Homo sapiens: one gene and its partner. The protein of the gene in region 1 interacts with the protein of each later gene in a pairwise test. Each region holds a gene or a part of one and is shown in the gene's direction. Other genes may lie near its edges. The genes, in order: GREB1 and LSP1.

Region 1 (3,825 bases):
TTATAAATGAGGATCCTGTTTGGGTCGGGAGCGGAAGAGAGAAGATTTGGAAGAATTAATAAGAATTTGCCAAGGTGCCAAGAATTAATAAGATGAAGGGAGAGGGACAGCATGTGTGGGAGAGGGGAGGTGGGGTTTCCAGGGGATGGGAAGTGATGTGGGTTGGGTGTTTCTGGAACCCAGACTTTGGGGTGGGTACACTCAGCCACGAAACTCGGAGGGCAGGCAGAGGCCAGACCACAAAATGCCTGGTGGGCACTGTGGGGAGGAACGAGGACTCTCTCAGTGGGAACTCCAAGTGGAGCCCAGTGTGGGCAGAGCTGTGTTTAGACTGGTCTCTTAGTCCCATGGAGGTGTATGGAGGGCCTGTGAGGCTGGTTATTTATAAACAGGGCAGAGGATTTATTTTACATTGAATATTTCTTTTCATTTCAGACCCGAGCAAGGGAGAGAGGGGTGGAGGGAGAGAGCCAGAGTTGGTGGGAGCTAGTCAGATGCCTGGCTGGGGAGCAGAGGCATGTAGGGTAGCTGATGTCCTGGGCTGCTTTCAGAAAGGCCTGAGGCAAGAGCACTGGCCTCTCTTTCCATCCCTTTTACAGAGGGAAACAGCACCTGTCTGCCTGGCCTTGAGCTTGGCTGCCGGGGACGCAGCACTCATTGTTTGAGTGTGCAATTGTACTGTAGATGAAAGAAAGAACATATGAGCAATTTTTTAAGGGTCAAAATAATCAGTAATCCCATTTGTTCCAGATAAACTCTCCTAACATTTTGTTTCTTGGAGATGTAGTTTTTCTTTTAAGGCAAACAAAAACATACATGAAAACACGTCCTTGATTTTGAAATGTAGGGAACTGAAAGGGACTGAAGGGTGTCAGTCCCTACTCATCCCTGTCAGTGTCAGGAGTGGGTAGTGCCATCAGGACCTCGGGCTGCATCAACAGACACCAGAGTGCAGAGGAGGAGGAGAGGCAGCCGGCTGGGCTGTGCCTGGCCTGTGTTCTCAGGGGTGCGCAGGTCTGGGGGCCACAGTGGAAGAGGAGCATGCCTGGGACGGTGAGGGGGCTTGAAACCAGCTGGTGCGGGTGCAGAGGCCGCGTGGCCCCCTGGCTGCCCTCTCCATGTGGCCTGCACCTGCTCGTTCTGTTTTCTCTTCCTTTGCCTCCCAAGGCTCCCTTGACCTTTTTTATGAAACTGCCTCAGTGTGTCCTCCTTAACTGCCTCCCCGAGTCAAAATCCCTTTCTCCCTCATCTCTGCTCCCAAAGAAAGGGCTCTGTGGGTCTAGAAGAGCCATGGCAGAGATTAAAGCAGTGTGTGCTCGTCTGCCTCCTTCCCTGCAGACCCTGGATGCATGCATAGCACATGCTAGGAGGGGATGTCAGTAGGAAGGGCCGTGGGTCGGTGGGGTCGTAAGAGGACGTTCAAGCTGAGGGCAAAGCTGCGCTGGAGGTCACACCCAGAGCAGCACGTGCACAGATGTGGGGTGTGAGGCTCCTGGGAAGTGGAGGCTGGAGGAGGTGACTAAGGGCGCAGCCAGACTTGGTGACTTGGTGACAGAGCCCAAGGTCTCTGAATGTCAGTTTTCACACCTGTAAAATGGGGATGATGACAGTACTGCTTTGTAGGATTGTTAATCGCAGCACACAGGACAGAACGGTGCCTGGCGAGCCGTGTTATAGGAGTGTCCAAGCATATGCAGCTAGTGTTAATATGTGATTGCATGTAACTGTGATGGAGAAATACATTTATTAGAATTAAAAATGAGCTCTGTAGCATGAATGCTTGAGTTGGTGACCCAGAACAGGGCTCTGGTCAGGTTCAAAGCCACGGGGACCAGAAAGCTTGATGCCTGCTTGGCACAGCAGGGTGAGGCCCCATGCGGACTGAGGATGGGAGCAGGCTCTCGTCGTGGGTGTGTGGCCTCGGGCGTGCTTGCCCTGTCAACAGACCTGGGTGTCTGCACTTTGCACTGGAGTCACCCCGTGGGTTTCTTGTGCTGTAGGGAAGTGGTGACTGTGAGCTGCACGTTGTCACAGCAGAGTGGGCCTGGGGTCTTCTGGGAAGCAGGCCGGACTCTGACGGCAAGCTCTGTCCTTTCCCCCACACCCCAGCTGTATGAGTCCACCCTGCACGCCTTTGCCTTCTCTTACTCCATGCTAGGAGAGGAGATCCAGCTGCACTTCATCATCCCCAAGTCCAAGGAGCACCACTTTGTCTTCAGCCAACCTGGAGGCCAGCTGGAGAGCATGCGACTACCCCTCGTGACAGACAAGGTACTGGCTCAGAGACCTAGTGGGACAGATCCAAGTGGCTTCAACTGGGGACTGAGCCGGGGACTAGAGACAGAGCTTCCTGTGAGGGAGTGCAGACACCGATACAGGGACTGAACTTGGAGGAGGCTGGTGTCGCGCACGGGCTCTGGAGTCACTCCAATTCAAGCCTCAGCCTTGCTCTACCATTTACTAGTTTTGTTACTTGAACATGTCACTTAATATCTGCAAGCCTTGGTTTCCTCATTGTTACATTGGAGAGTAGCAACTTGCAAAAGCTTGTGGTGAGAACTGTTTGGAATAACTGATGAAAGGCCCTATCTTCCGTGCCCGGAAGATAACAGGAGCTGGGTAGACGTTCATCCCCTCCCTGTCTTTTCTTGAATGCTCTGCCAGGTAACATTTTGCGTAGGCTTAGGTAGATAGGACAGCACAGTGAATCCCTAGGGCCCATTACCAACTCCAGCAATTGCTAACTCATGGCCAGCCTTGTTTCATCCGTCCCTCTCTCCTCTTCTGCCTTCCTGTTTTGTTTGGAAGTAAATCCCAGACCTCAAATCATGTCATCTATCTATACATATTTATACCTATAGATATAGATATTTCAGTGTGTCTCTCTAAAAGACACATTTCCTTTATCTTTTGAAGAGGTCGTTCTGAACGTTCCATTGTCTCTCACCATTCTTACAGAGATGCTCCTTGTAGAGCTTTTGGTTTGACGGTGCTCACCTGATCACCTCAGAGTCAGTTGGCTGCTCTTTAACCAGCCCCGCTCAAGGCAGGCCATGTGGAGAAGCTGCTTTTCCTTCTCCAGAGTGCTAGGCACCTGTGGAGTTGCCCCTGGCCTTTCAGATCTGGCAGCCTGTTATTAAGCAGTGAAAATATTTGTAATGTACCCAAGAGGACTTCATTGTTAGGTACCTCCTACCCCACGGGCTGGGGTTGGGTGTTGCGGTGAAATTCCAGGGGTGAAATATGAGAGCTGGGGTTTCTCCACCACTCCACTCACCTTCCAGCCTTCCTGGCGGAGCTGGCCATGAGCACCAGCTGCATGCACAGTGTTGTGGCAGGTGCTCTGAGGAATTCAGAGGGAGCAGAAGGCCTAGCTCTGCCAGTTGAACTTATTGTTAAAGAAGGAGTTGAAGAAAACAGTTATTTACATAAAAGATATAACAACCCGAGTGGATAGCTAAGCTCTATGGGGCAGTGATTGGGGGGTGTTGTGTGTTCATTTGCATGGAAAATTAAAGACATACAAGAATAATGTGTGCTCTGGGCACAATATTAGATTCTAATATGAGAGGGTAATGAATTTGGTTAATTGCTATATGCCAGTTAATTTCCGTTGCCTAACTATTCCCAAATAAGCATTAGCTTTGGGATCTGTGGGCTAGCAGTTTGGGCTTGGTTCAGCCGGATGATTTTCTGGGCTCTGTTGTGCTCACTCACTCGTGTCGATAGTGAGCCAGCAGGTTGTCTGCGGGCTGGCTGGTGGCCTCAGCTGGGCTGTTCAGCTCTCCTCCATGTGGTCTCTCATCGTCCAGCAGGCTAGCCCGG
Region 2 (3,825 bases), on another chromosome or scaffold:
TCTCCAGCTGCTCATGGGCTGCAGATGAGGATTCAAGGTTATGCAGGGGTCACTCTCCTGCTCCATCCCTGGCAGGTGGGACCTCACCTACTGCTTCTTTCTGCTCCAGAGAAGAGCACGTCCCCCTCATCTCAAAAGTGCCTGTGCTCCTCCTTCCTGAGTGGAACCTACACTTTTGACAGTTTGGTTTCTGAGGCAAGGCTGCCTCCTCCTCCTGTCCCAGGTACCTCCCCTCAGAAAAGCAATGGGACTTGGGATAGAAGGATCTAGCCAATTCGTTCCAGATGAATCTAGAAATAATCCTTTAGCCTTTCTCTTAGACCCAGTCCCAACCAAAATCTGAGCTTCATCACCACCACCCAGCACCCACCATTCACCACCCAGCCTCCAGCCCCCAGCCCCCAGCCCCCAGCCCCCAGCACCCATGACCCACCACCCTGCCCCCTACCCGTGGCTCTGGCCCATTCTCCTGCTGTCAGCAGTGCCTGCTTGAACAGAGGGCCACACTGAACAGATGCATGCTGCAAGCATTTGGAGGCTGCCTCCTCTTTAAATCACAGACATTTATCCACCAGGGATCACTCGGGAGCCAATGAGGCCACCACCCTGACCTCCCCTGTCCCCATGGGCTCTCTCAGTGCTCAAAGCACCTTTCACTGGGATGCTGCTCTGTGAACATACATTCGCAGGTATGTGTCGGGGATGATGAGAATGTGTCAATATGAAGACAGATCCCTGCCCCTGTAGCCCCTGCTTAGGCTCTATTGAGGTGTTCAGCCTCCTGGGCCATGGTGGTCTGCTTTATCCTTGGGCCATGAGCTTATGAACCATGTCTTAGTTGCATAAGAAAGGAAAAATAAAGATTAGAAAAGAATCAATTATGGAGAACAGTATGAATGAATGGAAAGATGAATGAAGAATGATAGGAAGTAGGAACAAATGGATGGATGGATGGATGGATAATTGAATGATGGATGGATGGATAATTGAATGATGGATGGATGGGTGGATGGATGGAGGGATGAGTGGATGGATAGGTGCATGGATCGATGGACAGGTGGGTGAATGGATGGGCAGATGGATGGGGTGGATGAATGAATGGGTTGGATGGACTCATGTATAAATAGAGTATAACTCATGCATAAATAGAAAGAATTATTTAGTAATTGATGAATGGATGAACAAATGAGCAGATGAACAAAAAATAGATGGATGGACAGAAGAACATCTGTATGTATATATGGATGTTTGGATGAAAGAACGAATGGATGGGTGGATAGATAAATGCAGATGTGATATTTAGAATATTTAACAAAGCATGTGGTACAAATATGAATCTACTGGAATGGGTGCTGATTATATATATTCCTATATTGAACTGTGTTGTACCTGTGCATATTGGCTGATCATCAGCCCAACAGCTAAATGAGCAAATGTACCAAAACAAAAGATGAGTGGATTTATGGATGAATGGATGATGGATGAATGGGTGTATAAATGGGTAAATGAATGTATTGATGGAAGGACACATGAGATGGAATTATGTATGGGTGGATGATTGGATGGCTGGAATATGGACATATAAATGATTGGAAAGATTAATAGAAGGATGTCAGGAGAAGTAGACATATGGATGGATATGGATAATAGATGAATAGATGGATACGTGGGTGGATATAACAAGAGATGAGTAGAAAGATAGATAGATAATGAATCAATAGACAATTGAATCCGTGCTGAGTAAACTATTAGAAAGACGGATGTGTGAGTAGACACTACTAAATCAGGAATTTTGCACTCTCTTCCAGGAACACTTCCTCCCATTTCTCTCATCTCTTTTCAAATAAGAAAAGAATTACTTCTTTCCATGAGGCTTTCATATATAAAGACCCAAGGAAAGAATTACTTATTTCCATGAGGCTATCATACGTAAAATATCAATCCCCTCCAGAACTCCATATGCCTTTACCCTGATTTATATTTTCTGTCATATTTTCCATCATCTGACCTTTATTTATTTATGTGTTTGTTCCCACACTTGAAACATGATCATCATAAGAGCAGGGACTTTGTTAATGCTGAATCCCCAGCACCTTCAAAGTGTCTGAATTCAGTACAGATTTATTGAATAAATATATGGAAGGATGGAGAGACAGATGGATAGACAGATGGATGAATGAATGGATGGATGGATAGATGGGTGGATGGATGGATGGGTGGATGGATAGATGCATGGATGAATGGATGGATAGATGGATAATGGATAGATAAATAGATGAATGGTTGGATGGATGGATGAATGGATGGGTAAATGGATGGATGGATAGGTGAATAGATGGATAAGTGAATGGATGGATGGATGGATAGATGGGTGGATGGGTGGATGGGTGGGTGGATGGATGGATGGATGGATGGATGGATGGATGGATGGATGGATTGGTGGATGAGTGGATGAGTGGATGGGTGGATGGATGGATGGGTGGATGGATAGATGGATGGATGAATAGATGGATGGGTGAATGGATGGATGGATGGATGGATTGATGAGTGGATGGATGGATGGGTGGATGGATAGATGGATGAATAGATGGATGGGTGAACGGATGGATGGATGGATGGATGGATGGATTGATGAGTGGATGGATGGGTGGATGGATAGATGGATGGATGAATAGATGGATGGGTGAATGGATGGGTGGATGGATGGATGAGTGGATGGATGGATGGATGAATGGATGGATGAATGGATGGATGAGTGGATGGGTGGATGGACGGATGCATGGATGAGTGGATAAATGGATGGATGAATAGATGGGTGGGTGGATGGGTAAAATGGATGGATGAACTGATGGATGAATGGAGAGATGGACAGAGAGATGGATGGATGAGTAGATGGATGGATGAGTGGGTGAATGGATGAGCGCACACATAACAGTGGAGTTGACATCAAATACTCTCCCATATTGTCCCTCACAGGACATGCTCTAGTTGTAAAACCATGAATCTTGGCCGCTACATGTAAATATCTGTTCTTGTCACTTCCCATCCATCAGCATTTCTGACAGATGATCATTCTCTAGTGACAGGGAAGTCCTGCCATTCCAAGGTAGCTCTTTTCCCTGTGGGAATATTCTTCCTTCTTTTGAACTAAAATATGCCTTGGCCACATTTCATTCCTGGCTGTCTGTGGCTGGGACTCCTCCAGAAGTTAAAACAGGAGGCAAGGAGGAAATAGGCAGGTTGAGGTGCAAATGAAGCACATGCTCACTGCCCCCCACCCCAGGTAATCTCACCTTACCTGGGTGATCTGTCCTCCCTGAGTGATCTCAGTTTCTCTGTGTGATCTTCCCTACCCCTGGTAATCTCACCTCCCCTGAGTGATTTAGCTTTCCCTGGGTGATCTCACCTCCCCTGGGTGACCTCACCTCCCCTGGGTGACCTTACCTCCCCTAGGTAATCTCGCCTCCCCTGGGTGATCTCACCTCCCCTGGGTGATCTCACCTCCCCCAGGTAATCTTGCCTCCTCTGGGTGACCTCCCCTCCCCTGGGTGAGCTCACTAAACATTTGTCCAACCTGAGGTCCAGCCCTGGCTACCATCCCTCCTGCTTACTCCAGAATCCTGTGGTCTCTGCAGCTTTGTGGATGCTGGGGATGTGGGGCCAACACCATGGTCTCTAGTGGACATTCCCTGCTTCCTCCTGGGTTGTGCCGGGGGAGGGGAGATGCTGTGGGCTCCTCTCTCCAGGACTGGCCCTGGGACCCAGTCTGGTGTGTATGTAGGGAGTGGGGACGGACTTCCTGACTCCCGCAGTCTCCATGGGGTA

The links.
Region 2: the proteins of GREB1 (region 1) and LSP1 interact in a two-hybrid assay, tested with the Homo sapiens proteins (one large-scale study listed by BioGRID and IntAct).

The regions. Positions count from the first base shown.
Region 1 is NC_000002.12:11,627,839-11,631,663, forward strand, and holds part of GREB1 (protein GREB1), read left to right. Parts: intron 1-2,109; coding exon 2,110-2,271; intron 2,272-3,825. UniProt on the Homo sapiens protein: May play a role in estrogen-stimulated cell proliferation. Acts as a regulator of hormone-dependent cancer growth in breast and prostate cancers.
Region 2 is NC_000011.10:1,859,304-1,863,128, forward strand, and holds part of LSP1 (lymphocyte-specific protein 1), read left to right. Parts: intron 1-160; exon of another isoform or gene 161-233; intron 234-3,825. UniProt on the Homo sapiens protein: May play a role in mediating neutrophil activation and chemotaxis.